Linked DNA regions of Homo sapiens: region 1 is linked to region 2. Evidence: fine-mapped expression QTL. A gene starts in region 2. The other region holds a variant in brackets. All regions are shown on one strand. Distances are between the middles of the regions.

Region 1 (16,171 bases), 31 kb after region 2:
CCGGTCCTTCCATCATATTTCTCTCAGGCACCCTCCCCAGTCACAACCATGATATTGGAAAGAAGGTTCTATAGGAATACTCTACTCACAGTTTCCCTCTTCTAGTTCTTTGATGATTTGGTCACAGGCGTTCACTTCATTTCTCAACATCCTTTCCTGCTTATTTTGTGAGATCAGTACAGTCAGGCAACTGCTGGTGTAAGAAGTAATGTTCTAAAATTATCTTGGCTTGAAATAAGGTGATGGACAAGAAAAAACTGGAAAGCTCAAATGTAAGATGGGATTATTAGTATTATCACATGCAAAAAAGCACAAAAGAAACAGATACGGGAAAGGCCAGAATCATTTTCTAACCTACAAAGGGAAAATATTTAAAAGATGGAATTTCTTGTGTTATAATCACGACAACAAATTAAAGTCTACCCATCTTTGAATATAGACGACTTTCAAAACCTCATTCGCTATAATGTATTGCCTTTAGTGAGGACTGTAGAAAAGATCTGAAACACAAAAGTATTTGGTATCTGTGCTACGACCGCATTTTGTCCATACTCACTGCACTATACAAACAGATCTCATTAGGCTTAAGACTGACAACATGAAGAAAGTCTTCCTCTCTTCAAATGATTTCCATTTTACTTGATTAATTACATGCACTTGTATATTGAATAGCTAAAATAACTGACTGTTCATCCTTATCTAGATGTTTTTGAAATTAACAATTCTTAAAAGGTTATATAATTGAAATGTTTGCATTTATAAACCCCTCAGTTATTTACTCAAAGATTTGAAGTGCTTCTAAATAGTGGATAATAAATACTTTAAAAATAACCCAATAAATCAACTCTATAGTTTGGAAAACTCAATTCTTATCAAGGCATCCCTTAGCAAGACATTCTCACCAAGATCCCGGCATAAGTGGGTGATTACTTTCTTTATTCCTCAACACAGAACCCTTATCTCTGAAGGAGTCCTGAATTTAATCCCCGTAAACCTTTCCCACTGCACAGACACCTACTTGCTTCCCCTCAAAACCTCCTTTTAGAGTCTTTCCACACACTGAACACCTACAACTTTCTCTGCATCTGATGATAATTGAAGTGGCTACATATACTCAAACTCCATTAACAGGCTTGGGCAGCATTCTGAGTAATCCGAGTATTAACCAGGACTCTACTGATTGCTTTTAGGCCTTGCCTGAATGCTCTGAGAAGCACACGAGCTCCCAGAAGTATTGACAGTGGCTGGTCTAGTTAGAGCTCCTTCCTAACCAAAAATTAAAAAGGAGAAGGAGGAGGGAGAGGAAGAGAGAGATAGATTTAATAAGCCATAGTATACAGCAGGCACTTTACATATATTGTCCCATTTAATCTTCATAACCCGGTGAGGGTAGGTATTATTACCTTCACTTCTTTCAGAGAAGTTAAGGAATTCACACAACTAGGAAGTGGGAGGTCAGGGACTGACTCATTTGACTACTCCACAGTGCCTGTGAAATGATGGCACACAGCAGCCTCTGTGGACTGAAAAGGTATTCTCTCTTATAGAAAATCTTTGAAGTGTGTTCTGTCCCTTTGCTCTCCTTTCTCCAAAATCTCCAACCACACTTAGGGTCTCCTTCTATGTCCCCCTATTCTCTTTGGTAAATTACTGATTCCATGTTTGTTCATTACCCAATTTCTCGCATCTCACTACAACTTTTAGATCTTCATGATGCTAAATCCATCAATACTCCTTTGTGAATACCAAATGAGTTTAGTCCTTAAATATAAGTAATAATAATAGTAATGGTTCATTTTTAAAGGAACTTGTATAATTTACAAAGCACTTGAACTTACATTAAGTCATCGAAAACAACAATCCTAGAAAGAAAGTGCCAACACCTCCATTTCACAGATGAGGAAATAGGCGCAGAGAAAGAAAGTGACTTAATTAAGGCCACAGAGTCAGTAAAGGGTAGACTTAGATCTCAAAGCAAGCCAGGTTCAGTGCTCTCCAGCTGAAAAATGAAGAGAGCTGTAAATGCAAATGCTCTAGAAATAGTAAAACACCTAACACAGACAAGTATCTCTAATAATCAGCAAACTGCTTTGTTTAAGGAATGATCCTAAAAAGATGTATTTGCAAAAAAAAATAGTAAAGAATTTGTTTTCTTGTGACCTATAGAGGCAGGTTTATCTGGTTAAAAATATAACAGCAACAGAATGTTCCAAAGCAACACACAGAGAAAAAATATCTATGCCTTGTCTGTATTAAGCAACCTCCCCTACTGCCCAGCATTATAAAAATCACATTGCCAAAGCAGCTTTACCTGATAATGGAACGTTTTCTTCTCAGATGTTTGTAAAGCTGCTAAAAAAAACAAAAACAAAAAAACAAAAAAACAAATCAGGTGCATGTTTTTAAATTCAATCTTTCTCCTAAACAAGTACCCACAGTGCTTGAGAAGCTCTTATTACCAGCTAAATCAGTACAATTTCCTGTTAGCACTGAGTAGCAATGGAGCCAACTGATGAATTTGAACTAGGGAGACCCACTCACAATCCCTAAGCAGGGAAAGTAACTCAAACTCTGAATGTGATTTATCACTTGACTTACGTGCCTGCTCGAGGGTGACATTTGCCACTCTGCCAGGCCCCCTCAGCTAGAGGATAAGATTTTAATGGGAACATCAAAGTAGAAATATTGCTATTACCGTGGAGTCCATAGCAGGGCCAGACTTTGCCCATGAACCTTTCTTTCCTTCTACTTCTAAGGCGTTGTAAGATGAACTGAAATAGCGTTGCCTCTGGCATTCAAATCCCTCTTCTGCTGACATAGTACACAGGCTTGGCCATGTTCTTTCATTTCTTTGAGCCTCAGTTTCCTTGCCTGTAATGTGAGACAGTTATAGCCACTTCACAGGACTGCTGTGAATACAGAGTGCCTGACACATGGAGGTGTACAAAAAATATTAAATACTAGTCCTTACTAAAAGGTGAAATTAGAAGAACAACACTGCACGGATCTTTATCCAGGTATTTTTATTTTTTGGCCAAGTTCTCTCCTTTCTTTATGCTAGTACAAAGAGTGTTTTTCTTGGAGTAAACTGAGAATACCAACCAATGAGGATTCTTTCCATTTGGAAATAATCTATGATTTTTTTTATGGCTTAAAGTCTAGAATGCTACCATAGAGGTTAATTTTTGTGGAACATTTGCTGTGGACCAGGCATTGTGCTAAACATTTCATGTACATTATTTCATTGAGTTCTCACAACTACCCTATTAGGTAGGTAACATTTAACAGATGAGAAAAATTGACACTTACAGAGGCTAACTCACCCTAAGTCATACAGCAAAACGTAAAGAGCCAGGATTTAAAACCTAATTAAAAGTCCTAATCATAAAAATAAAATTGCACCTCAGAGCCTGTAGAAATTTTTTACAAATGTTAAATGCTGTAAACTCTATACTTTTATAGCATTTTTAAGTTTCCAATCTATGCTACAATTTCACTTTTATGTGTACCACTTTATGTAGACATTTACCTGAATATTTAACATATTAAAGACATTCAGAGGGTACCCTGACTCACACATAACCTTTAAGTAAAGCATATCTGCTTATTCATCCTGTCGTTGTCTCCTCCAAAGAGAGGCAACATTTCAGAAAATAAGTGGGTTTCCATGGTTTCTGTCTCTGAGTTACATTCTTAGCTTTCAAACAATATTGTGGAGTATTTTGCCTTGTGCCCTGATTAATACCTTAGGAGGAAATGTTCCCAGGGGAAGCCTATATTGAACGTCTCCTTCTGAATCACTTTGCTTAAATAGAGTTTCAATTTGCCTCCCAAAAGAGCCCTGCGCTTACTGCGACCACTGAACCATTTACTGCCTGATTGTAGGCACAGGTGCACTGATTTTTCAGTCCAAATATCCATGTGCACAAATTTATACCTGGTTTAGAAATCTTGTCCTAACACTTTCCTTGCTCTCCTCTATCCAATAGCCCACACCCAAAATGACACCCCCAGTAAGTCTCCATAGGAGGTATGCCCCCAGCAACTTGTTCACATCCTGGGTTCTTCTTTCCTATCCAGCTGCCCTGCAGTTGTCCATGACCTCCCTTAGCCAAACTGCCCTGTGCCAAGCTCCCGGCCAGACACTCTACTTCTTGAACTGTGTCCAAAGACCTCTGACTTTAATTGGAGCACACAGAGCGCCTGACAGAAATGTCATAAGCATGAAATGTAAAAGGTCAACTGCCGAGGAGAATGATGCAAATACACTGCATTCCCTTTGGGAAGGATAAGCTACTTATGATTAAATGTTCTCTAGCACGGATTTTTTTTTTAATACTCCAAAGTGCCCTTCTGACCTTCTGCCTTCTTTTAATGAACTTTCATTTGTCCCCCAAATAGTTAGAAACCGCCTTCCACAGATGATACAAATGGGCAAAGGTGTATGTGAAGCCTTGGATGTCTGTGTGACTACGTGTCATGAGAAAAGCCAAGTGGGCTGGTACAGCAGCTATAGCCACATCCCACATAACTTAAGGAAAATTCCTCCACAAAAGGAGCTGAAACCCAGGAAAATGCATTCTGCTCAATATCATGTAAAGCAATAATTTACTCAATTAACTAAAAAGAGAGCAGGCAAAATTCAATTCAAAAGAGAACCCAAAACATTGATGTAGAAATATAAAAGTTAAATTTTTTTGTTACTGGTTATCATTTATCAAAGTTTATCTTATTATTATTTCCATCCAAGTTTAACCCCTACTTAATGCTTTTAACTACCTGTGCAGGTCAATTGTACCTTAATGAAACTAATGTTTCCTCAAACACGGGTGAGATATGCTACGTGAAAAATACTACATTCTAGATGTTTCTGCCTTCCTACCCTAACCCGTATCTAATACCACATAGCAGAGAGATAGACAAGCTGCTCTTTTATGACAACATAAGAAAAAAAAAGAGGCGAAAAAAAACTCTACCATTTGTTTCTTATTAAATTTGCTGTTGCCTAGAGACACTCAAGAAATTATTCTAAGGTAATTACATGAGTCAAAATCGTTCCAAGCATGTTTTTCACTCTCCATATTTGACTAATTGGTTTACCAGATTTGTAATAGTTCATCTGTTGTTGTTTTCAATTTCCCAGATAGTCTGATTATTTTTAATTCAGGAGCTTCACTTTTAACAAAAAAAAGCCAAGTAAACCAAACTTAAAAGCAAAAAAGGGAAGAAGTCTACCCACTCCAACCCTCCGAAACACACACATACAAGCCCCTAGTACAACGCCTAGCACATAGTAGGAATACCTGTGAATACATAGCTTAATAAGTGAATGAATGAGTAAAATAGATGACGTATAGATGAATGTTAGTACTTAAAAATACTACCTTTCTAAGAGGACCAGCTAAAGAAGCCTAGATAATGACTTGAACATTAATGAACTGAAAAGGAAAGCCTTGAAACTCTTTTAAAAATAAGAAAAGAATAAACATCCAGCTATTTTGAGTCAAGGGCAAAGTTAAATGGTAGTAGTGCCCTGGTTTTTTAAACAATTATCAATGGCATGTTTTAACATCTCACCAGCACTTTGTTTACTTTCTCTCCATGTTCCCTTCCTCCATATGCCCTTTTATTTCCTTATCCCGACCTTTCAGCATTCATTCTTGCTCATACCTGCCAATCTCATCTATATGTTAGTAGAAATAAAGATTAAATGGTTACTGGCCCCCACCATGATAAGCTGAAAAGTAGATTGCAATAAACTCTGAGGGTCCTCCCTCCACTCCACTTCAATTTATTTAACAACAGCTACTCTTTATGGAGCACTATTCTGAGAATGACAATTCTCTGAGGGAAGTCTAATTAGCCTCATTTTGTACATAAGGACACTAAATCATAGAAAGCTATAAATCTGGCAACAGTCATGCCAGGAGTCACACATAGGTCTTTCTGACTCCAGACCCTTCCCACCAGACCTCACACTGCTTATTCTTGATTCATTCCATGAACATTATTGAGAACTTGCCATATGTAAGTCTTTGAGTCTTACAGAGAAGATTCCATATAAACTCCCACCCAAAAAAAAAAAAAATTTGTTTTTCTCTCTTTAAATCCCTTAACTTTTCAAAATGCATTTACATTTATTATCTCACTTCAAATGGTATTCAGTGCCTTGAAATACAAATATGACACCATTAGCAGAGTTGTCATAAATCTTTGGCTGTGCTGACATGAGTAAAGACAAAACAAAGGAGCAACTGAACAATCCAGAAAGTGGGAGGTGAATTAGTTTCAGTGACCCGTTCTCCAAGCCTTGGTCATAAAGGATGAATGTTCAAGAGCAGCGACTCATTGTAATAGAGAAAGGATCTGTGCTGCCTGCCACCAGGCCTAGACTTCTGCATTCTGCAGGAGAGTTTCCCGTGACTAATTTTACCAGCTCAAAAAACTTCCACACCCACCCCCTTGCGATGCATCTTTTGTCTGCCATAAGGCAAATGTCACTTCGTCCATTTAGACCACCCAAGGTTATCTGATTCTTGTTGGTTATTCTATGTTTTATTAGGATTGGAATTTATATTTGTTGATCTTCAAACAATAGAGTCCTGTTCCTTGGTATCAAATATGAACAGTTAACATCAAGAAACAAAGCAAAAATGAAGTAGATAAAAAATAGAAAATATAGTGACTGCTGTATAATATAGTCAGGGATAAATGTTAAGGGTTACCAAGGCACAAAGCCAGGAATTATTTCTGAAAGGAAAGAGTCACTATCTACATCATTGAATACTTTTTGCCATTTCATTATATAATTACAAGTAGTTTATTCATAGAAATGTTTTTCTCTACAATTTATTTTTAGGAAAAGAAAAGAGGCTTACCAGAATCATGGATAAGTATATCTTCAGTTAACTTGCCATGTCCTGGCCACAACAGTAGTTGATGGTCACTTGGGAAACTCATGACAGCTGGGTACAAGTCAAATTATTACAATTACTTCACTCCTATTAAATGTTTGGCATGTACTACAAGGTCCTCTACAAGCCCTAATTTAAAAACACACACACCTAGTTTCTGTCCCACCAGAGCAGTTGAGAAGCCCATAACAAACCAATCCTTCATATCACATCAACCTTGAGACTATATGTTTATTTGCATTCATTTGAAAATGACATTTGTTTAATAACTTGTGCATGATAGTGGCTGATTCTCTGAAAACCAGTTTGGTTTCTTATTTTTCATGGCAAATGAAACCCTCAATTTGCAAAATATTGTTCTGATTAAGAGGGTTTGCTTTTCTACTAAATCACTCTCTTCTAACGTTGCATGCCTACACGGCAGTTTCAAATTAGGATACTATCATCTGCCCATAAGATAATTATTAATATTTGCAGAGTTATATTAGGAGATGAGATTCACCCATGCAAAAGCTATTCACATATAATCAGTCAGCTTTCTAAACATCTGCTCTGTTCCCAACCATCAGAGCAAACTAATGCTTGTTTTAATGTCATTGTTCCCTTGCCTCTCTGCTTCTTGTTATCTTAAAACTGCTGCATTGTATTGTTTGTCCTATTCTTAAATGCTCAGGATTAGAGGCAATAGATCTGACTTGTGGCAAACTTAGTGTTTGCTGTATGCCAAATGCCCTTTAATTCTCTGGCATGCTTACCACTAGCATGTGACAGTTTGCACTAGTAGGCTAGATCTTCCTTATTATACACATGCCCTTTGACAATGGCTGGTTCTAAGGCAGTTCTTCTTCTTCCTTTTTTTTAAGGACACCAGCCATATTGGATAGTTTTTGTTCTCACCTACTGTCTATGCACTGAATTATTCTTCATCTTTTTTGATACGCACTTTTTAAAAATTTTTGTAGATGTAGGGGGTACAAGTGCAGTTTTGTTATATGGATACACTGAATAGTGGTGAAGTCTGGGCTTTTAGTGCAATCATCAGCCAATATATTCATTGTATCCATTAGGTAATTTCTCATCCCTAATACCCCTCCCACCCTCTCACCCTTCTGAGTCTCCAGTGGCTAGTATTCCACTCTATATGTCCATATATACACATTACTTCATACCCACTTATACGTTAGAACACGTGGTATTTGTCTGTTTCTGAGTTATTTCACTTAAGATAATGATTTTATTTCAGCTTAGTGAAGAAAATATGCCTGACATATAATAGGTCCTTAATAAAGGTTTGTTATATTTTGATGAAATTTATTAAACCCCAACTTTAAAAAGTAAAAAAAGAAAAAAAAAGCTCACCTTCTAATATATTACATGACCCTCAACTTTATTAAGAAAATGTAGTTTGGCACTACCATTGGCCAAATTATCTACAAAGATGAAATATCTTTAACCTCTGACCCATCAGTAGTAATTTATCTGCCTATTACATATGACTAACACACTGCAGTCAAGATAACTAAAGTCAACTGTATGTACTCAATAATAGCCATTGAATTTCCAGAGAGATTATTTTAGATGAGTTATGATTTAAAAAAGTAAAAAGACCTTTCATTTTTCACTGCAAACCTTAACCATTCAGTAGTAGCCAGCTGTCAACACATATCATGCCAGATTTGATACATTTTTTAGAAACACATAAATCCTTTAACCACTGAGAGCAAAGACTGATTAATTTTTCTGTTTTTCTAGTTAACAACCTGAAATGCAAGATACTAATGAGTAATTCTGCAAATCAATGAAAAAAATTATGAAAAATCTCATAAAATGTGTCACACTACAATTCATTCCCCATAAAGTTACACAATAGTCAGCATATGGGTTTTGTCACTTTAAAAGGGTCCTCAAGAGCAGTGCCTTAAATGAGATAGAAAGGTTCATTTCTCTCACATACATCAAATCCTAACTGGTAGACATTCAAGCAGAGGAGAGCATCAATGTTACATGAGGTTATCTAGAGGCCCTATTTCTTTCTGCCTTGTTGCTTTGCTACCTCCTAAGGGATGCCCTTGGCTATACAGTCAAAGCCAGCTCACTACCTCATCTGCATTCCACTTCAGGAAGGGAAGATAAATGGAGGACAAGCAGTTCAATTTTAATGGCATGACCTGACAGTTGCAGATGTCAATTCTGCTAATACCCTGTTGGCCAGAATTTACTCACATGGTACCATCTGAATGCCAAGGACACTGGGAAATGTAGTCCATAGCAAGGTAGCCAGGAAGTCGTATAAAACTCAGGGCATTCTATCACTAAAAAGAACAAAAGGAGAATGGACTGGGGATGGGGTGTGGAGAGAGGAAACGACAGGTTGTCAAAAAAGACTAGGATGTTCTTTCTGCTCACATTTACTAAATAGACATCATCCTCATACATATTATTACAACTCTTCCAATCATGCTGGATCACTGTTGAGATTTTCTGTTTAGATCAGTATTTGCAAGGACAAGTGTGTCCCTGAATCTATATTAGTACCATGCTTGCTAAAGTTGCAGATCAAACACCCAAATGGACCTGCTAGATTTTTGTCTTCCAATGG[G/T]GTTGTCACAGGTGGTCCTCCTCTCTCAAGCAAACTAAGAAGGAGAAAAGTGTAAGTCCTTTTCTATTTTTTTTTTTTTTTTGAGACTGTCTCACTCTGTCACCCAGGCTGGAGTGCCGTGGCATGAACTCACTGCGACCTCTGCCTCCCAGATTCAAGCGATTCTCCTGACTCAGCCTCCCGAGTACTGGGATTATATAGGTGCGTGCCACCATGCCCAGCTAATTTTTGTATTTTTAGTAGAGACAAGGTTTCACCATGTTGGCCGGGCTGGTCTCGAACTCCTGATCTCAAGTTATCCACTCGCCTCAGCCTCCCAAAGTGCTGGGATTACAGGCCTAAGCCACCACGCCTGGCCCAGTAACTCATCTTTACTAAGGAACTCCTCTACATCAAGCCCTGTTGTAGGGGTTTATGAACAATTACCTCAATTAATTCCTTAAGACAACCTTTAGTGAATACTACTATTATTCCCTAAATGAGAAAAAAAGCTTGGAGGGGTTAAATGATTAAGCCAAGTGTATTAGCTTTGAGATGGGTTCATTTTCTGTTTCCATGGGTAGAGCTGTAAAAAGTCTTTTTTTCCCCTGAGAAAGTGGGCTTTCACAAAAAAACTCACAAAATATAGGTAAACCACCAGCTGTTTCCTGTTCTCCCAAGATTTAGTGGGGAAGAAAGGGAAGAGAATCTCTAGGGGAGAATCAAGCTAGAATTGCTCACCACTCTAGGCAGAATTCAATACTTATCAGAGGCAAAGACACTCTGAGAGCCTGTGAGTCCCAAAAGAAACTGGATCCAGCTGGACATGGTGGCTCACACCTGTAATCCCAGCTTTTAGGGAGGCCAAGGCAAGGCGGGAGGATCTCTTGAGCCCAGGAGTTAAAGACAAGCCTGGGCAATACAGGGATACCTTGACTCTTAAAAAAAAAAAAAAATCCTTCTTTATCTAGCTTGGGGAATGTTGGGGGTGGGGGTTTGGTCCTAGCACTTCCATCGACCGGCCTCAGAGGCACATCAGTAGTGGCATAACACCTGCTGACTCAGGCCATCCCAGAGAAATAGCCATTGGACCCTCTCTTTAGGTGTAGTCCTGGCTTTTAATAAGAGAGTTTGGGCTACTGAAACGCAAGTAATTCATCAGTCCCTTCAAAGTATAGATAAGAGCCAGTCATAAACTTAATTTCATACCTAGCATTGGTAGTTACATTGAAACTGCAGTAATACAATCAAATTGCATTAGCCAGCTTTATATTTAAGACCTACTGCTTTAATTACTTTAAACAACACAGTCTTGTGTGGAAGCAAAGAAAGTCTTGCTATAAAGTGGCATTAGCTTAGGAAACCCCAGATTCTTTGAAGGAGACCGTTCTAAGAACTCCTACCAGAACCAAAGTCAAGCAGCCAAAAGGAAAAAAAAAGATAAAGCCCGGACTTCAATCCTTGTTAGATGGACTAACCCACTGAGCAGAAAAATCCCCAGTACAGAAAAATAACCCTAACGAAGATTAGGACAGAAATATTACCTTTGTATATAATGGGTCAACACGTTTACACACTCGTGGGCCCCAGCTATCATTTCAATCTTCACTTCCTTCATTATCATAGAAAGTAAAAAATCCCTTAATACTGCTGAGCTAAATGAATGTTGTGTCTAAGCTCCTAAGAATCAATTTTTTTAAGTTTTCTTTCTACAGTGGCTAATTGGAGAGGAGTTAAGAGTTCAGACTCTGTAAGTAAAGATCTGATTTCAAATTCCATCCTGCCTCAGGCTGCCTGTGAGACTCTGGGCCGGTTGCCTTTCTAGGTGCCCAGCTTGCTCATCTGTCAATTGGAACTAACAACAGTGCTCATGGGGGTTGCTGTAAGGACGAAATAGGCCAGTGCCTGGTGCAATGGAAATATGCAATATGTGTTAAATGTTATAAATGCTAACACATGAAGTACTGAAAGGTAGGATGATGACTTTTGAATTTTGGTTTGTGTGGTTTTTCCCCTCATGAGTTCCAATCTGTTTGGCCCCTAATGGCAAACTCTATCAGGTTGTGAGTCCTTGTTAACTCCACCAAAAGCTGAGAGAGATAAATGGACCCTTAGCAGCAGAAAAATTGCCTTCTGAAATAACCTCTTCCTGATGCATCCAGCATTTATGTGCTGTCCTTTTTTCCAAGACAAAAAATTGCATGTTGGAATTGGATTGGAGACATTATCTCGTGATGATTAAGGGAGGTTATTACTACAACAGTTCATGAAATGAAAGCTACCTGCTTTTACCCAGGGAGCTCTTGAAAATAACCCTCTTTTTCCCCAGTGAATAGGCAAGGAAAAGCAAGATTCCAATAATGGATAGCATTACAAATCCTTTTTCATGTACTCTGCTTATCTAAATTGGCACATGATGCCTGCCCACCATCTCTCAGAAATTGTGAGAGGTACTGACTCATCCATCAAGCCCCACCTAACAGCCTGGGAGGCACCAAGGAGGATATTTCTCTTTCTCTGCTGCCTGTTCCTCACCAAACTGAATCAGCATTTCAAGGAGCTCAATTCCCATTCTGAAAGGTAATACCTTCTAAAGATGGGGACGGCAGCACTTATGGAAATTCTAACCCATCAGCTGAAAGATAGGCATGTGAAAGTTAGAGAGTTACCCCACAGTAACCTCCCCAAAAGCTCTCCATTTGAAAAAATTTTAATTTTACATATATATGTATATACACCCACACATAAACACACATACATACACATATATGTGTGTATATCTATGTACATGCATACATGTATGTGTATATGTGTGTATATATATGCATATATATATATATTGCCTTCTGGAAAACCTCTTCCTGATGCATCCAGCATTTATGTGCTGTCCTTTTTTCCAAGACAAAAAATTGCATGTTGGAATTGGATTGGAGACATTATCTCATGATGATTAAGGGAGGTTATTCCTGCAACAGTTCATGAAATGAAAGCTACCTGCTTTTACCCAAGGAGCTCTTGAAAATAACCCTCTTTTTCCCCAGCAAATAGACTATATATATACATATATGTGTGTGTATATATGTGTGTGTGTGTGTGTGTGTGTGTGTGTGTATGTATATATATATATGTATAGAGCCCGGACTTTAATCCTTGTTAGATGGACTAACCCGCTGAGCAGAAAAATCCCCAGTACAACAAAATAACCCTAAGGAATATATATATTTTTTCTATAGTGGCTAATTGGAGAGGAGTAAGAGTTCAGACTCTGTAAGTAAATATCTGATTTCAAATTCCATCCTATATATTTTCCCAATACTTCATTTATACTTGCCAAATTTTTTCTCTTCCCCAAAACTACCTTTGGGAAGGGATTAGGAATGAGTCCCTAATTTAAGTCTTGCATTGTTTAAGCTTTAAATCAGGGCCGAATATTCTCTTAACTATGAATGGTCATTGAACAAGGAAAAACAACAGATACACAAACGTATATGTATCTTGGAATGGGAAGGAATAATGAGGAAAAAAATAAAAATATAAAAGAAATGGATATAAACAAATTCCTTATAAAGTACCTATCAAGAACTTACACTATACCAGGCATTCTTTTAGGTATCCAGGATTCCTCAACCTCAGCACTATTGACACTTTGGGCTAAATCATTCTTTGTTGTGAGGAAACTGTTCTGTGCATGACAGGACATTCAGCACCATCCCTGGCCTCTACCCACTAGATGTCAGCAGCACCCCTCACCCTCGCCAAGTTATGAGAAGCAAAACTGTCTCCAGACTTTGCCAAATATCCCCAGGGAACAAAATCGCCTCTGGTTACGAACCACTGTACTAGATACACAAAAATTGCCCTGCCTACTAGTTGCAATTTTTGTTTTATGCTCCTTAAGGACAGTCAGTCCTCAAAAACTCAGTGCATTATCTGGTGTACAGGTTGTCAAACCTCCTCTTCTCCATTGCTGGGCTACTGCTGACTTCTGACCAAGTGGAGGAGGTTGCGGGGGTTCTGGGAGCATCCAGTTCCTTACTCTCAGTTATGCTTTCTAAGTCTCTCATCATTTCCATTAGCATTCTGATCTTTTAGAAAGCTTTTCTAGAGCAGCAAATCTCTAACATTCATCTGATATTTATATTGTCCATAAATATTTGAAGTATCAAATCAACATACAAAAATAAGAAGTCAAGTTTTGCATTGAAGTGGAAATTTTAGGAAATGTTCTACATCAGTAGGCATCTCCTGTTAGAGGTTTGTGATTCTAAGTAATTAGTACCAAGATGTTTCCTAGTTATCCTTTTCAACTCAGAGTTGGCTGTGACTAAGGGATAAAGAATGGGAGGGAGGTGTTTGTTTATGTTTAGTTTTCACAAACATGTCATGATGTATTGTGAGACCACAGCGACTTATTAATGCAACTTTCATCCAGTGACTTGAAAACCTTCAAAAATATTCATTAACAGATACGCTGATGAGGTTTGCAGGCTTTCAACCTCATATTCTTACCATATTAGTCTAAAGAGATTCTTGGGATGAATCATATGGCATTACATTACCCACGGCTTTATCTTCAGAGAGAAACAACAACAAACACCAGTGCATTTCAAAATTCCCTAAGGTGTCATTGGCCAAGCAGACCAGGAGCTTTGTCTCTATGCCCCAGGAAAAGAAAGGGGCAGAGACAGGAAGAAACTAGCTGAAGTCATCGGGCTCATGCCTGTAATCCCAGCACTTTGAGAGGCCGAGGCAAGCAGATCACTTGAGGTCAGGAGTTTGAGACCAGCCTGGTCAACATGGTGAAAGCCCATCTCTACTAAAAATACAAAAATTAGCCAGGCGTCGTGGTGCACTCCTGTAGTCCCAGCTACTCAGGAGGCTGAGTCAGGAGAATCGCTCGAACCTGGGAGGCAGAGGTTACAGTGAGCCGAGATTGCACCACTACACTTCAGCCTGGGTGACAGAGCAAGACTCTGTCTCCAAAAAGAAAGAAGGAAAGAAAGAAAGAAAGAAAGAAAGAAAGAAAGAAAGAGAGAGAGAGAGAGAGAGAGAGAGAGAGAGAGAGAAAGAAAGAAAGAAAGAAAGAAAGAAAGAAAGAAAGAAAGAAAGAAAGAAAGAAAGAAAGAAAGAAAGAAAGAAAGAAACGAACACCCTATGAAGTTGTTAACATTGACCAGATCTCTAAATGTTGAATTGCTCCAGATTCAGGCCTTGGAATTCTTATCTCCTTCACTTTCTAGGGAAACTTATCCACTCCTGTGGTGATAAATACCAACTCCCAAATGTATATCTTCAAACCCAGACTTCTCTGAGCTCCAGTCTTGTATATCCAACTGTCTTCTCCATATCACACTTGATTGTCTCAAATTTAACACATCCCCCACAAATCCCCTTTCTTCTCTCTCCCAGATTTCTTCAGCCAATTGTATTGCATGTTTCCAATTATTCAGGTCACAAACAGTGGAATCACCTTGACATCTCCCTTTCTCTTATCCCCTGCATGTAATCATCAACAAATTCTGACAGCTCTTTCTGTCAAATATTTCTAGAATCCAACCACTTCTCACCCTTCTACTGGCAACCAACCTGGATTACACCATCTTCATCTAGATTTTTAGCACAATTGACCTCCATGTTTGCCCCATCCAGTCTATTTTCCACACAGCAGCCAGTGTAACTGTTTACATTTCAAGTCATAGCATGTTTCCTCTCTGTTCAAAATTCCAGTGGCTTCCCCAAAGCCCTTCCATGCACAAGGCCCTGCCTATCTGGTCATCTGCCTCCTCTCTGACTTCATTTCACCTTTCTACTCTCTTGGCTCTTCCTTCGCTCTCTATAGTTACTCTTCCATCTCTCTGGAGCACACTCCCTTTGAAACCCTCATGTTTCCCGCTCTCACTTCCTTCATGTCTCTGCTCAAATGACACTTTATCAGAGAAACTTCCCTCACCACACTGTGTGAAATAGTGCCCCCTCCTCAGGCTTTCTCTATATTCTTTATCTTGCTGTTTACAGCCCCTATCCTGCTTTTCTCATCAAAAATATTTTTTCTTCATAAATAAATGTGTTTATGTGTATATATATGTATGTACATACATCTGCAATATATACATATTTGTATTACACATTTATTAATGCAGGGATTGACAAACTATGGCCCAGGACCAAATCTAGCCCTGGCCTGATTTTGTACAGACACAAGCTAAAAATGGTTTTTATATTATTAAAAGGCTGTAAAAGAAAAAGGGGAAAAAAGATGAATAAGAAACAGAAAGCATATGTGGACTGCAAAACCTAAAATATTTGGCATCCGGCCCCTTATAGAAAAAGGTTGCCAGCCCCTGTATTGTCTCCCACTAGAACATAAACTCCTTGAGCTCAGGGACTTTGTTTTGGTCACTGTAAGATCCCCAGCACATAGAAGAGTGCCTGGTTCAAAGTAGATGCTAAGTAAATATTTTTAAAAGAATGAATGAATAAAGACAATGAGTTTTATTGTTTGTTTGTTTGTTTGTTAGCCCAGATCTCACTCTGTTGCCCAGGCTGGAGTGCAATGGTATGATCATGGCTCACTGCAAGCTCGACCACTCGGGCTCAAACAATCCTCCCACCTCAGCCTCCCATGTAGCTGAGACCACAGGTGTATGCTCAGCTAATTTTTTTTAATATTTGTAGAGAC
Region 2 (16,171 bases):
GACATATTTCTTATTCCCATCATTGTACACCTGAAAAAATGCACTCTCTCAGATATTAAGTGATTTTCTTGAGTTCACTCATCTACTAAATGGAAAGGTTGGAAAATAAGCCAGTACCTCTGATTCCAAAACCATCTACATTCATTAACTATCTAATGGAAGAGAAACAAGATTTTGATGTACATGAATTAGCTAAGGATCATTAATAGACACAAACATATTTATAATATATATGTGTATATATGTATACACATAGAGTCTTTGAATATCACATACCTTACATAATAACCTGGGGATGTATAAGCCTGTTCATGGACAATTTGGTAAGATGTCATTCCATTACCTACTAAAAATTCTGCACCTAGAAAAATTATTCAGTTTATCTATAATGATCTAGAAATTCAGGGGCTGTGACTGTGCCGTGTCCCCCTTACTTCCCTATACCTCCTATCCCGGAATCATTCTCTTGGTTAATTAACTCTTACTTGTCCAAATCTGAAAGACTCAAGCGCTCAGGTCAACTGCTATCTCTGCTAGGATGACTTCTCTGAACTCTGGCCTTCCTTGTCCTGATTCTGACTTTGGTGAACTTTTCACTTTTAATGCAGTATTAACTTGTCTTCTGTGTACCTCTTATCTTCTCCACTAAAAAAGTTCATTGTCTTATTTATCTTTATTTCTGCACATAGCATGATGTCAGTTACAGAGTCAACAGATATTTAATCACTACGTGATGTATGGATAGATGAATGACTACGTGATCAGAACTCAAAGTACTGGGTTTCCACTTAGCGGTGACATCCTTTTACAATTCCATATTCAGTTTCCAAATTGTATTCCTATGACGGCCAAATTGTTCTTCAAGACTTTATGGGGGAATGTAAGTATTTTATATACACATATTAGGTCCATATCTACATTTGGGAGTCTAGTAGAGCTACAGAATCAATGACTTCTTTATAGGCAAGGCAGCTTCTCAACGATCAGTTTTAATTTCTCTATTTGCATTTATGAGATCAATATAAATTTGAGGGTATTTATTTTGCTATACCAACAAAAATTGAGATTCAAACTTAAGGAGAAAAAGGGAATGCAACAAGTTCAGTTGATAGAAGAAACCCCACTTAGTATTTCTTTGTGCAAATCTAGGGCAGAAACTACCCAAATGCTAAAACTTACAATCAGTTACTCTTTAAACTAAAATCACAAACTTTGAGAGAAAAGGAGAAATAACCCTCAAAACAACAATCAAAAAAAGCCCACATTTTTAAAGCTCATAAAACAGCTGAGCACACACAGAAGCAACCTGGATAATTTAAACATCCAGTTTAGTATGCACTACCACATATTATTAACGTATTCAAAATGCTTTTGATTTCAGGAACACTTTTTGGTCCAAATATTTTAAATATTATGTTGAATTGACTGGCTAAAAATGAAAGTGTCAAGTAAAGGTATCACAGTGGAACAGCATTTTTAAATACACCCAAATCCGAAAACAATGCTGAGGGAAGGGCGGCTTCCTTACACTACTAACAAAGGAAGGAAAGTGAATAAGGCAAATGGTCCACACTGAATGCTCTTACTCATAACAAATACATCTAAAGTTCAACCTAGATGGTCTTTTTCATCCTCCTGTATGGTACACACTGTACAAGGGTATAAAAGCACCACAAGGTGTGGACGTGTAAGTGGGAAATTGATAGAGAAAAATGCACTGTGCTGAGGTACCCTATAGCACTTGATCTTTGTGGAATGATAATTACAGACTGTTTAGCCTCCTGCTTTTTCTCCAGTTTAAAGCTATGCTAATACTTTCTATGATGCTGATTATTTTCATGTCCATTTGTAAACTGAGGCAGAGGAAACTAAGATGTAAGATCTCAAATATGTTAAATATTGGTTTCTCATGTTACATGGACATGAGAAGGGAAATAAATTATAGAACATTTTCAATTTGTTTGATGGGTATTTGGGGAGACTTTGCTGTGTGCTTGGTTTGGTAATAGGTTATTTTTTATCTGTGGTTATTTTTGATAGGATATTAGATAACTTAGGCTGTGTTCAGAAAACAGCTGCACCTTTTATCTCTAAAAAGTCAATTGGTTTAGTTAAATATCCTTTTCCACTAAATGGAGCAGTTGTTTGACCTCTAGGAGACTTAGCTGGAAAGCACTGCATAGCTGTTTAAAGAGACAGCAGCATGCTTAACCACACACACTATTTGATTACATGCAAGTAGAATTTTTTTTGTAGTGGTCTATCTCTGGAATACTTTGCTTACAAAAAATTATAGTCTAAGCTTCAAGCAAATTTCAAAGAAAAAGTGATTGTGGACTCTGTTTGCTTACAAAATGTTATATTCTAATCTTTAAGCAAATGTCAAAAAGTGGTTGTAAACTGTTTCCAGTCTTAAAAATCAATTCCACAAATCATCGAAATGATTGAATTTGTGAATCATGCATAATATTGTATTCTACGTCTGGTTAAACCTTGTGCTGTGGTGTCTCATTGCAACTAAGGAAAAAATAGAGGTAGGATAGTATGGTGAATAAAGATGGAACCTTTTGTCCAGACAGTTCTAGATTTAAATCCTGGTTTTACTGCTTATTAGATATATCACCCATTGGTAGATTAGTTAATCTTTTTGAATGTCAGTTTCCCCAATCCATTAAGTAGGCCTATAAGGCATTTGACACATATTGTGCAATCAAATGGATCACAATGATTACCATTCAACAATTATCTGTTGTGTCCACTATGTACCAGTCTGCTCTAAGTACTTAGACTACAGATAAAAAATAGACCTTCTCTGCATGGAGTTTGCATTCTAGTGAAAGAAGACAGGCAATAAACCCCCCAGAAAAGTGTGTCATATAGTATTACAGAACATGACAAAGGTAAAAAAAAAAAAATAGAGCGAGATGAGGAGGATTCGTAGTTTCAGAAAGAGGGATTTGTGGTTTTGTATAGTGTAGTCAAGGTAGCCTCATTGAGAAGGTAGCATCTCGGCAAAGACCTAAGAAGGTGAGAGAATGAGGCATACAGATTTCTAAGGTAAGGGAGTTCCAGCACAGAAGAGAAGTCTAGGCTGGAGATATAAATAAATGCATGAATCTTAGCATCTAAATGGCATTAAAATGAGAGTAAATGAGATCTTGAGAGTGACTGGAAAGGAATAGAAAAGAAAAGATCACCAACAACTGCAGCTTTAGTGCACTGCAATTTTAAGACATTGAGAAAAGGAGAAAGAACCAGCAAAGAAGGCTGAGAGGGAGAGACTAATGACATGGAAATAAAATCAAGAGAGGTGTCCTGGAAGCCAAGTGAAGAGAGAAGGAGAGATTAACTCTGCCCAGTGTCATGGAGAGTTCAAGTAAGATAAGCATCTGTACTGTAGATTGTCTTGAAGCCTACTATTTTTTCCTCATTTACTCTTTAAACCATAAAGCTCAAATTACCTCACAATGAAATGGGTATGTTATAGTACCAACAAATCAAAATAATTTTTATTTGATTTATGTGGTCAGATTTTTTAATTTGATTTATGTGGTCAACCTACTCACATACTATTTGTTACTTGCCTATGGCAATTAAATCCCTTCCAATGGTCTACTAAAGAATAAAAGGTCGATGAAAAACTCACCTTGTCCAGTGATGTGAGAGAATAAGGGTCAAGGATTAAACAAAAGAAAATAGAAACACACTCATTAGCACATGGTAAATCTGAAAGTGAAGATTTTTCTAATGGTTCCTTCAGAGATGTCGTATAAAAAATAAACACCGTATTCTTAGCGTGACACTACTTCTGGCCTCCAGAAGTCTGAGAAGTTATAAAGAGAGAAAGACGGGAAGAAAAAGAGAGAGAAAGAAAGAGAGAAGAGTGAGAAGGAGAATGAGCATCCAGTTTTTTAACACGGGATCTGGTTTCAAAAAGGCTCTAGAGATGTTTTCAACATATACATCCTGCCTTCGGCATCCTTCAATTTTCTCCTGCCACTATTTCATTAGATTTCATTTCTTTGTGATTTTCTATCTGAAATTTCCAATTCAAGCTCCTATTTTGTACTTCATTTGGAACCTATCAAATTCTCATCCTTCTCTCCAGTTGAACACTCTTATTGAAATTTCTTGTAGATTTCTTCCTTATTGGTCATTCCCATTGCCATCCCCCTTGGATTCTAACACATTTGTATTAGCACCTTAAACACTTCTCCTCTACTTACTTTGTCCTTCATGTTCATCCAGTTTGTGGTCTCTGAGTTCAGACCTTCTGAAGGTGAGGAAGAACACTGGGGACCTTTCCTTTTGTGGAACATCAGCAATTTTTTAGTTTCCTTCTACAGGCTCTTTCTACAGACTCTTTCATAGTCACCCTTCCTGATGGATCTCTTTACCTGAATTTTCCCTCCTTCTATATGTTCTGAGACAGTTGGCAGTTTTATTTCCCTAAAATATGAATCTGATCTTTTCTCTCCCACTTTCCCTGAACATCAAGTTCTATGTATAAATGTATATCTCTATCAATCTCTCTAATTTCTCCTTTCTGCTCCAGACAGGACACTCTCCCTTATGGACCTCTAACACATTGTTTCACCCCCTCTCATGCTTAGAAATGGCTTCTCTGCTTCTAAAGTCTACTTTCTCCCTGCAGTCGCTTTCCTGCAACTCACATTAACCTCAATTTTCAATTCATGTTGCACTCACTGCTAATCCCACACACTACTATCATTCACTATGATATACTTTTCTGGGCTCAAATTGTGCAATAGTTAGCACTTTGTTTCATCGGAATACAACAACGGTTGGTTTACTATTCTTTTGTCTTCTAATTGTTTTGAGCACGCGTCTTATCTCTCCAGCCAGACAGTAAATTCATTGTAAGAAGGAGCACTGTCTCATAATCGCTTATATCCCTACCTCCTAATATAATGTCAACTAATTGACTGTAACTTTTAACTCTTGCCATCCTCGTTTACACTGGCTGGAAAACAACAAAAATACTTGGTAAAAGTAGTTCAATAAGATAAATGACAGCAGATAGTGCTCTATTATATATCTATTTTACAAAGGCTGAATTTGGTCATTAATATAAGGTTAATATTTAATGGAAGCTAGTTCGCTAACATATACTGCTTTTTGAACTATAATTCTGGATGTTTTGTGATCCTTCCGTAGTTACAATAAATTTTATAAATCCACCTGAGACTTCTTTCCTGAACTCCAAATTCGTATATCCAATTGCCTACTCAACATCTCCATGTGGAGAACCAATTGACTTTTCCAAAACTTGGTATCCATCCTCTCCCTCAAAAGAAAAAAAAAAAAAAAACCTAGTTCATCAACCTCACTATCTCAATTGATGGCGACTTCTATTCACTCAGGCAAAGAGTGATTATGAATCCTCTCTTTCTCTTAAACCCCTATATCCAATCCACCAACAGAATCAAAAGTTATCCATGGTACAACCATGGTACAACCAAGGTGGTAACACTCTCATTGTTACCACCTTGACACAAGCCACCATCATCTCTCATCTGGATTACTGTAATAACATCCTATCTAGTCTTCCTGTTTCACACTTGCAAAACACTCCTCTGCTTAAAACACCTCAATGCCTTCTCATCCCACACAGACTAAAAGCTAAAGTCCTTACAATGGCCTACTGGACCCTGCATGAATTGGGACCTGTTACATTTCCAACCAAATTTCCTGTTAACCCTCTCTTAGTCCCAGCTCTCTAACCACACTAGCCTTGTTCATAAAACATGGCAGGTATGGCCCACCACAGGACATTTGCACAGGCCCTTCCTGATATGCTTTTCCCATAAATATCCTCATCACGAACTCTCACCTCTTCTTCAAGACCTTGCTCAAATATTGCCTTCTCACTGAGGCTACCTTAGTGACCCAATTCTAAATTGCAACATTCCCTGCCTTAGCCATCTTTATTCTCCTCCCTGCTCTATTTTCTTTCCATAGCATTTATCACTATGGCTGATGAGAAAGTGCCTCTCAGACATTGAACTCCAGGAGCATAATTGACCCAAGAGTCCCAAGCTGTTTCACTCTGAAATCCATTCCTATGTTTGCTTCAAGGCTATGCTTCCCAGGGGCTACTCCCAGCCAGTGACTGAGCATGGCAAGAATGCTAAAATTCCTGAGAAACACTGGACTACTTTGGTTGCTGACAACTGATGTGTCTCATCATGTGTTTATTCATTCATTTAGTTGACAATACTAATACTTGTTAATTTTTTAAGCATTTGTTATTCATTCTGCACATATTTATTGAGAACCTCTGATGTGTCAGGCACTGTGTTAGGTGTCTGAACAAAATTTCTCCTCTCCTGGAACTTACATTCTGGTAGACAATAAAAGATTAAGTAAACAAAATACAGTAGATGTGGAAATGATGATGTTATTCTGGATCCTATAAGAAACAAATGCCAAGATGGGTTAAATGTACAGAATTTTATTAGGAGAAATGACTGTATGAGAGAACATGGGAGGACAGGCAGAAAAGGCTGGAGCTGGACATGTCTAAGAGGCAGGTGAAAGAGAAAGGGAGGCGAAGTTGAGTGGAAACATCCTAATCTGTATTGCAGTCCAAGGGAGATTGTCAAGACCATCAGAGCTCTGGCTCCAGGATTCCACTCAGGTCCCCCAGATTTTCCCAGCTCCAGCCTTTTCTGCCTACCACTCACATGATGATACCAATCAGTTGTTGCAACTCTGCTCCCTCCTAAATTCCCATCCTCTTTTTTTAAATCTTGTCCTCCCCTACACTAGCAAAATCTTGGGTTTTCCTCTAGCAGAAATGAGATTTGAGAGGTAAATTGTTTTTAGGAAAAGATCCAGACTAATAATTGGATGACTGCCCATTTGTTCTAGGCACCAAATATGCAATTCTGACTGAGATATTTATCATTACTGCTTTCTTGTCTTTAATTTCAGCCAGGATCTACAAATAAACATAATCAGAAGTCTTGAAGGTTTGATTTTTTTTACACTTAAATATGTTTCCAACAGTAATCAAACTTGGCACACATCCAAACAATCCTCCCATTCTCTGGTCTCCCTAAGTATCCCTTCTGAGGGTGTATGAGCAAGGACAAACTACTCTCAAGTATAATTTCAGACTCTTAAAACATGGGTTTCACCTTATAGTGACTGACAGAATGAGGGCTCTGTGGTTGGGGAACTCCAGTCAACAATGTGGGGAAACCTCAGTAGGGCCAATAAGTTTCTCCAGAGGACATTCCCACACCGTTCTGCCTTAGGCTGTTACACCCAGCTGTAGTGTTCTAGGAGCTAGACAGAGAAGGAGGCTGGGGGTCCAACCACTTCTCATAAAGACTGACTTAACCTTCAGCCTGTGCCTCTCCTTGCCCCGTGTCCTTGGGCAGTCCTTGATGAATGCCACTTATAAAGTCAGGCAGCTGGTGTTCCAATCCTGGCTTTGCTACTTACTAGCTATATGGCAAATTACCTCTCTGAGCCTGTTCCCTCATTTTTAAAGTAGGGATTATAGCACTTATCTCTCAGCACTTTGCAAGTATGCATTTACCTGTAGAAAGAATGCAACAAATATTAGCTATTATTATTACTAATATCAAAACTGCAAAGGAAATTAAACCATATGTTCAATGTTTGGGTTGTCCTTTTAACCTCTTCAGCTGAATGTTGATATGAAAGCGCTTAATAGCATTCAAACACATAATAATAAGGTAGTTGGTAATTAGGATTTACTTCAGCAAAATTTAATTAAAGAACCTGTAGGGAAAAGAAAACAGACAGAGCCAATTGTACAGCTTCCCAGCCTCTGCTTTGACCTAAGAGTCTCACTGGGCTTGCCTGCCTTTTTCTAAAGGATGGGCGAATATTCACACAGTGCCGGGCTCCAGGCAGTTACCAAATGTCTCATCACATTTTCAAAGGCTCACTCCTCTCTCTTGCGTAACCGGTGAGGTCAAAATGGGCACCTTCCTGAAAGCCAAGAGTGTCATTTCTGAACAGCGTCCAAGAAAGAAAACTGCATTCCATAGAAATCCAAGTCAAGCAATAACAAAAGGTGGCACTTGGTGCTTAAGCCACACTAAATACCTTGGTGGGCCAACTTCTTAATATAGTCACATTAACACCTTTGATTTCTCCATGACCTAAAGATTCCAAAGTTTGCAACAAAGTGCTGAGCAGGGGGGTCGGGGGTGGGGTGTAGACGGGGGAGAACGAACCAATGTAAATTTACCACTACATGAAGTTTAAAGTAGCTATAGATTGTTGTATTATTATCAAATCCAATCAGTGGAAGAAAGGCAAACAAGTGACTTGGCACTTCTGCCTCAGTCAAGGTAAGGCTCTCTCCCCTAGAGCTAGCAAGCAGGTAAACGAGCTTTGTACAAACACACACAGACCAACACATCCGGGGATGGCTGTGTGTTGCTAGAGCAGAGGCTGATTAAACACTCAGTGTGTTGGCTCTCTGTGCCACTCCTGGAAAATAATGAATTGGGTAAGGAACAGTTAATAAGAAAATGTGCCTTGCTAACTGTGCACATTACAACAAAGAGCTGGCAGCTCCTGAAGGAAAAGGGCTTGTGCCGCTGCCGTTCAAACTTGTCAGTCAACTCATGCCAGCAGCCTCAGCGTCTGCCTCCCCAGCACACCCTCATTACATGTGTCTGTCTGGCCTGATCTGTGCATCTGCTCGGAGACGCTCCTGACAAGTCGGGAATTTCTCTATTTCTCCACTGGTGCAAAGAGCGGATTTCTCCCTGCTTCTCTTCTGTCACCCCCGCTCCTCTCCCCCAGGAGGCTCCTTGATTTATGGTAGCTTTGGACTTGCTTCCCCGTCTGACTGTCCTTGACTTCTAGAATGGAAGAAGCTGAGCTGGTGAAGGGAAGACTCCAGGCCATCACAGTAAGTCTGCATACAGTTATAACTCATTAACGTTGTTACTTAGAGGAAGGCAGACCGTGGCCGGCTGCCCCTGTCGCTGAGCCCTCGCAAGTGGAAAAACAGAACTGTCAGCCTTCATGGACGAGTCTCTGTTTCTCTCTTAACCCTCATGACCCTCTGTAACTCTGGGGCTTCAGAACCTGAGTGCAGGGCAAACGTTCTTGATTTTCAAAAAGGCTGTGCCTGCATTTTAAACAACAATCAAAAGCTGTTAAGGCAGTCTGATTAACTATCTTTCACACTCTGTGGTGTACCTTAGAAATGCAGTTTTTCCTTAAATGTCCATTTGACTGGCATTAGATAAAAAAACAGATCCCCAACTTGGAAACTTTTTTAAGCTATGAATGCCTCAAAAAGTTAGAATTTTTTTTAAAGAGAGAAAAAGAAATTTTAAAAATGACCTGAAACTTTATATTTGTAGTGTGGTAGCATGTTCCAGAAAGCCTAAAATAATTAAAATGAATGTTAATATACGTAATTTAAGCATTAAACAAGAGAAAACTAGGTAAAAGCACGTATCAGATTAATTCTAAGATATCAGTTTCCAGCAGAGTCACAAACTGAATAAGATCCTGATAAAGGAATGCAGTGCATGCAGTGGATTTGGAAAATATTTTGTTAATACCGAGAAGGAAAATCGTACATTTTTTATGTTTGTTCCGGGAAAAAGTCAAAGCCAGAAATAAATTACTTTTCTTAAATGATCCAGCTTTCTTTTTAATTTTATAAAACCCTGTATTTGGCAGTAACTTGGAAATCTGTGTCACAATCATTTATCCCTAGCTATAACTTTTGATGTAATTGTTTTAAGAAGAAAAAGATCTTTGGAAAGCAATATCCCAATTTCTCAGCATTTTCTGCCACTGACATTAGGTATAGGAAAAAAATGAGTACTTTTTAAAAACTGATGCTAGATCAGGGATTTTTTGTTGTTGTTCTTAAAATTTTCATTGCATAACTAATTATGCTAATCCTAATTTAGATTTTTTACTAATTGATACAATATCTTAGTTTCACCCAGGAAACATTCAGTAAATTGAAATGTCTTCTTAGCCAATAGTAAGACACCAGAAGTCTATTGATAAGGTTGGCACTTTTCCATAAAACAATGCTTTGTTAAATGTCTAGCTTCTAATTATTACATTTTCCTCTCTTCAGAAAACCTTGGTCGGGATTATTGTTTGTTTTGTTTTGTCCTTTTTTGTCATTAAACTCAGCCACCATCTCAGCTGTCCTGCTTTAAGGGACAGGAACTCGGCTCTGCTCTGTTGTTTTTGGCATGGGCCTTTTACATTACAGCTGTTGTCTAAAGGTTACTTTATTAGACTGCGTGAGTTGTGTGGTCACAGGCTCCACTATTTCTAATGCTTATATCTCCTAATTAGCTAATTGAAATAGACAAGTAGACCCTTGTTCTGAATTTGCCTCTTTCAGTTGGGGGACACCCTCGCTCAAGCCCTTTTTCCCTCCAGTGTACCTTATAACTCTTACCAAAGCCACACATGTTCCAAAGATATGGCTGTATACAGTTATTTCTAAGGCTAGGAATCTTAGTCACTGAAGGTTCCAAACGCAAATAGAGACAGAAAATCCTCATAATGTCTTAAAAGCCATCAAGAGAGTAAGTAGCTTCCTGAATATGCAGATGTATGCTTTTTTGATGATTAAAAAAATTTTTGGATTATTCCATCAGCCTAAATATATCCCATTAGAAAGGATTAAACAAATCTCCCAAGTAAGATCACAAAGTAATTCTAGCTTGGAAGTAATATACTTGTATAAAGGTTGTAGGGAAAAAACTGGAAAAAGTTTATGGGAACAAATTTCTCATAAACCAGCCTACACCTCACCAGGCTAAATCCAGTCACATTTGTCACCACCTAGAGGAAAAGTGGAGCAGTGGTGTGTCCATGGAAACAACACATCCACTCTCCTCCCTCTTGGACGCCCTGGGACACGCCAGCTTTCCTCGCCCTCGCCCTTGCCTTGCCCAGGAAGCCACCTCAGCTAGTCTCTTTCCCCCTAGGAAAATAAAATCACAGAGTATGCAGAGAGTTTGCAAGAATTATTTCATTTTTGGAAATGCTTAAGCCTCAGAATCTCCAACCTAGACTAAAACTCAGAGAGTATCTTCTCATTTTAGCTTTTTCCTAGTACTTACCTACACTGAAATAATTTTTTGTATACTTCAAGAATGAAATCAGAAGGCAATTCCCCAATGCACCCAGACATAGCAACACATAGACCTCACTTTGGAGGAAAAAAAAAAAACTTTTACACTCTAGGATCTATTTGCTTTTTACATTAAAATTCGTTTCTCCAATTGCTGGCTATAAAATAAAATAATCTTCACAGTTGTATTTATTCTACCTGGTTTCAAGTGCCTAAAAAGTCATTATTTTTCACTGCAAAGAACTGAAAAAATAAACGTATATACCTAGAATTTGACAGAACAAAGATCCAAGTGCCAGTCTTTTTCTTTTTCTCAAAAAAAAAAAAAAAAAGGTTAAACACATTAAGTAGTTGAAATGTGACACTTAGGCTCTCAAATTGAAAACTAAATTACTATCGTGATGCCATTCATTTCTCATATCAGATCAGTAAATTGAATTTTAGATTAGTCAGATGTCTTCTCAAAGATTTAAAGAGAATAAGAGCAAAATTATGAAAGTATGCAGAAACAATTGTTCAAGGGTAGATACTTCAGTTTGGGTATACCAAATATAGATTCTATTTTACACAATTACTTTCATGTTCTTCCTTAATACTTTATCCATGCACCAACTCTTCCCTTACTAAATTAATGGTCAAAGTACCCCTTTGCCTAGAAGTTCAGTTTTCAACTATAATTTAAACACAGGGCTGCTTAAAATTAATTAACTATTATGTTTGATCTTTAAAATGTCTCTTGAGGCCCTTTTCAAGTCAGTACACACTTGAACAAATAGCTGATCTTTCTACAAAAGGTGAGCTAATTGGAATTCAATAGTATTTTGAAATAGACTAGTAATTTGAAATTCACCTTTAACAATACTGGAACTGAGGATACCAATGACTCCAGCATTCTCGAGAAGAGTGAGATGAAGAAGCGTGAGATGAAGGACTGAACGTACCACTGACAGAGTTATCCCTACAGAGTTACTGTCTGAAAGTGAACGTGGCCCACACTGAAGAACAACGAAAAGGCCCAGGGGTCTCTCCTCAGAAACACAAAGATTCCCTTAGGATGAGTAACATTCCGTATACTCTTAACATCTCCTCCACAGCTAATACATTTTCTTACCCCCATGCCTACAGCGACATTGGAAAATACCATTACAAATATGGATATGCTCAAACTGGAAAATTAGATCTTAAACTGTCTTGCGATCATAGACTCAGTTCTATTTGAAGGATGAACTCAGAGGAAGTTTAAGAACTAGAATCCAATTTCAGAGAACAGACTCAACTGAGAAAAAGAGAGTAAGAAGAAAGCTGACATTTTTATTCTCCTCCAGGCTTACCTTTAACTGTAAGGAATGTGTGTTATCAACACAGTCTCTCATGCCTTTATTCAATTAATGGTTATTAGGCACCTACTATGCACCAAGCCTTGTGCATTTAAATGAAAAGAAGTGAAATAAGGGGAGTCTGGAATGTGAGGAGTGGGGATGGGAGTGCATTGTAAGTTAAAATAGAGTGGTCAGGATGGGGTTCACAAAGAGGGTGACGTTTGAGCCTAGATGTGAAGGAGGTGAGTTCTGTCAAAAGTTAGACAATAAAAATAATCACAAGTACAAGCACCTGCCTAGGACTGCCTCCATTTGGAAAGGAGCCATATAAAGTCCTGACACTGGAATTTGAGCAACAGAGCCAGATTTTGCCGGCCAAAGCTGCTCATAATGAAAAAAAAAAAAAAAAAAAAAAAAAAAAAAAAAAGCTCTCACATTTCCCCTGATCAACTCCCTACTGCTTTCCACTCCCAAATACCCAAATAAATTTTTCTTGACTTGTAAATATAGGAATTTAAGAGACATGGAGTTCTTTACATAAAACAGAAATCTCCACAGTACAAAGACCAACATTAAAACAAGAACATGAGCACGGATGGGTTCTAGTTATTTCTTTAGCACATGTTCCCTGTTACAAGTGTCTCTGGGCACTCTACCTCATCTTGTTCCCTTTTTGTCAATATCTGGGCTCTTCTAACAGTCAGTAAGACAGTTAGTGACCCAAAAGCAAGACCTGCTGTGTGATTTGTGGGGCCCAAAACACAAGGGAATTGTGGTGGCCCTTGTTCAAAAAATATTCAAAATGTCAAGGTGGTGACAACAGAGCTTTGATCTAAGTGCTAGGCCCTTCTGAGCATGATGACCTGGGTGACTTCACAGGTCACAAACCCAAGAAGTCAGCCCTGCTTCTGTATTCCAGACTGGCCATACATATTTTTCCTTATTCGTTCTATCTGAACAAATAAGAGAGTAAAAACAAGTGTAAACTAGTCTGTGTCTTTAACAAAGGCATACCCTAACACGTGTTTGGATCATTGTATTATTTAGAGCTCTAAGGAATTCTTAAAGTACTAGTGGCCAAAGAATGCATAATGCCCCATTGTTAACCAACATACCTCATGATTAAGACATAGTTAGAGGAACAACTTCTAATTTGTCAGGAGCTTCCAAAGAAATTCACATGAAGATGGTACATGAAGATGTAGCAGTCTTCTAAATAAAAAAGTCCCATTCTGGAATATTCAACAATGAAACCTCAGCACAATTTTCCACAGTGCTGTACCAAGATTACATGTTTCTTCCAGAGAGGGAAAGGTTTCTTCAAACAAATGTGGTACGCCACACTTCTTTGCCAAACATAACAGCCCACCCATAAAGGACACCATGTGATGAGGTATAATAGTTTTGATAGCTCATTAAGGAAACTGCTTTTTGATAACTGGGGAAGGTTTTTCCACTGTGCAACAAAATGATAATGCTACTTTGCTAACTCCTCTACTGACAAAGATCCCCATGAACTTTCTGAACATTACTGGATGGTTGAAAGGAAAAGCTGCTTCTTTAGAAAACTGTGATTAAAACAAATTAGAGAATAAGCATCTAAGACTAACCAGAGTATAAACAAATGCAACACAGTTCAATTCTAAAACTGCAATAGGACTTCCACTTTTTAATCTGCAGTCTCTAACTACCTACCCTCTCTTAAAAAGAAATAAGAATATTTTAATTTATTTAAATGATAGTAATGTCATTTTGGGAAGAGACTCCATGAAAATTTACCACCTTAAGAAGTTCCCTTACCCAGAACCCTGTGGCATGCACATTTTCCTAAAACATCATCAAAGCAGTTTGAATGAGATCTATACTTAAAGTTTTTACATAAAATCCCAGGGACTGAGAGGATTCAGTCAAGCCACTTAAGAGGTAGAGCTAGGTTATCCTCAGGAGTTCTGAATGGAACTCAAAACTAGCTTCTGTCCTAAGCATCAAGTTTTCAATCTATTAAATGTATCAGTGATTGACACAGGATGATGTAACATAGCAAAGTGGGCTACAACAGCTATTCCTAATCAATTACGCTAACAACTCTGGAATAAAATGGACATCTCCTAAGAAAAAGAATTGTGAGATTTCTAACAATAATAACAGTGCCTATTCTTACATAGCATTTAGGCTATGAAAAATAAAACTTTCACATCCATTTTATCTCATTTGTCCAAGTAGTCCTATGAGTATTTTCAAAAGCATATGTTATCATTCCCATTTTATGGCAGAAAGCCTAGGCCAAGAAAAGCTAAGGAATTAGTCAAATGTCGGAACTTGAATCTATTCCTCTGCTCATCAGATTTTCTGACCACAGCATCATGACAAATTTTTATAAACATCAACATCACACCCCTGACCCCTGTTCAGGACTTCCGTAGATTTCTGGCTGGGCATGGTAGCTCATGTCTATAATCCCAGCACTTTGGGAGGTTGAGGCAGGCGGATCACTTAAGGCCAGGAGTTCAAAACCAGCCTGGCCAACATGGTGAAACCCTGTCTCTACTAAAAATACAAAAATTAGCTGGGCATGGTGGTCTGCGCCTGTAATCCCAGCTACTTGGGAAGCTGAGGAACGAGAATTGCTTGAACCTGGGAGGCAGAGGTTGCAGTGAGCTGTGATTGCGTCACTGCACTCCAGCCTGGGTAACAGAGTGAGACTCCGTCAGAAAAGAAAAGAAAAGACAGAAAAGAGAAAAGGAAAGGAAAGAAAAAAGAAAGAAAAGAAAGGAAAGGAAAGGAAAGGAAAGGAAAGGAAAGGAAAAGAAAAGAAAAGAAAAGAAAAGAAAAGAAAAGAAAAGAAAAGAAAGAAAACTTCCTCAGATTTCTATTGTTCACTCTTATTAATACAGTTTGACGTGGAGCCAAGAGAAGAAACTATGGAGGGTCTGCTTTGCTTAACCACATTTTCTAACCCAAAACAGTTCTCCACCTCTGCAGTCTCTTCCCACCTTCCCCAGTTTGCAAGGAATAGAAGTGGGCAAGAAGAGACTGTGGTGTCATTTCAGAAGTATTTGTTATTGTTTTTAAGAGGTTTGGAACAGAATCAAAGTCATTTTTCAGAGCACCTAATAGTTCAGGCCCCTTTTTCCTCTGCCTTCCTCCCCATCCCACTTCCTTTACGTAGCCTCTTCCCTGCAGCCAGGAATTCTCAAGACAAAGACATCCTTGCATCTTTCACAGTTCCCTCAACAACGAGCTCAACACTAGCTGGAGCACCAAAACAAAACAAAACAACAAAACAAAAAAACTGTCCTGGGTGAGTGAATGAATGAATGAACAAATACAATCAAGCTGAGAAAGGGTGAAAGCTACTGATTGGCTGGCCTGCTGACAGATTTTTTTTCACTGAAGACCCGGCCAAATTTACCATCACCCCTTGATTATTCAGGGGTCTGTTTTGTGTTTGTTGTTTAGCCTGGTTTGGTTTTGTTTTGTCACTATTTGTTAGAACAAACAAGATAGGGTAGACAAAGGAAAAAAAGAGTAAAACACACGCTGGATTCTGTTTAGAGGTCTGTTAGAATGTGTTGTAAGGTTGGGAAAGAAGACTACAATTATTTGATAAATGAGGTTTAGAAAATTTGTGCTTTTTAATTCACCCCATAAATAGTAGTGATAACCATGCCAAATTTCCATGACTAACTTAAGAATTAGGATATTTCAAAGCTAGATG

Alleles and levels. Alleles are on the strand shown, and positions count from the first base shown. SD is a standard deviation of normalised expression in the study named.
For the expression in tibial nerve of the gene that starts at base 8,674 in region 2, allele T in region 1 goes with a higher level than allele G (small effect, 0.38 SD a copy in GTEx).

Evidence for each region.
Region 1: its variant is fine-mapped to the expression of PALMD in tibial nerve (GTEx, PIP 0.97). The same link has a PIP of 0.9 or more in left ventricle.

Annotation. Positions count from the first base shown.
Region 1 is chr1:99,668,534-99,684,704 of GRCh38, forward strand. All of the region lies in intron 3 of PALMD (palmdelphin), which reads left to right. Among named protein-coding and RNA genes, the nearest start is that of PALMD, 31 kb to the left of the region's middle. The variant G/T (reference allele first, on the strand shown) is at 9,514.
Region 2 is chr1:99,637,440-99,653,610 of GRCh38, forward strand. PALMD (palmdelphin) reads left to right here and starts at 8,674. Exons shown (of 8, transcript NM_017734.5): 1 at 8,674-8,923. The coding sequence starts at 8,879.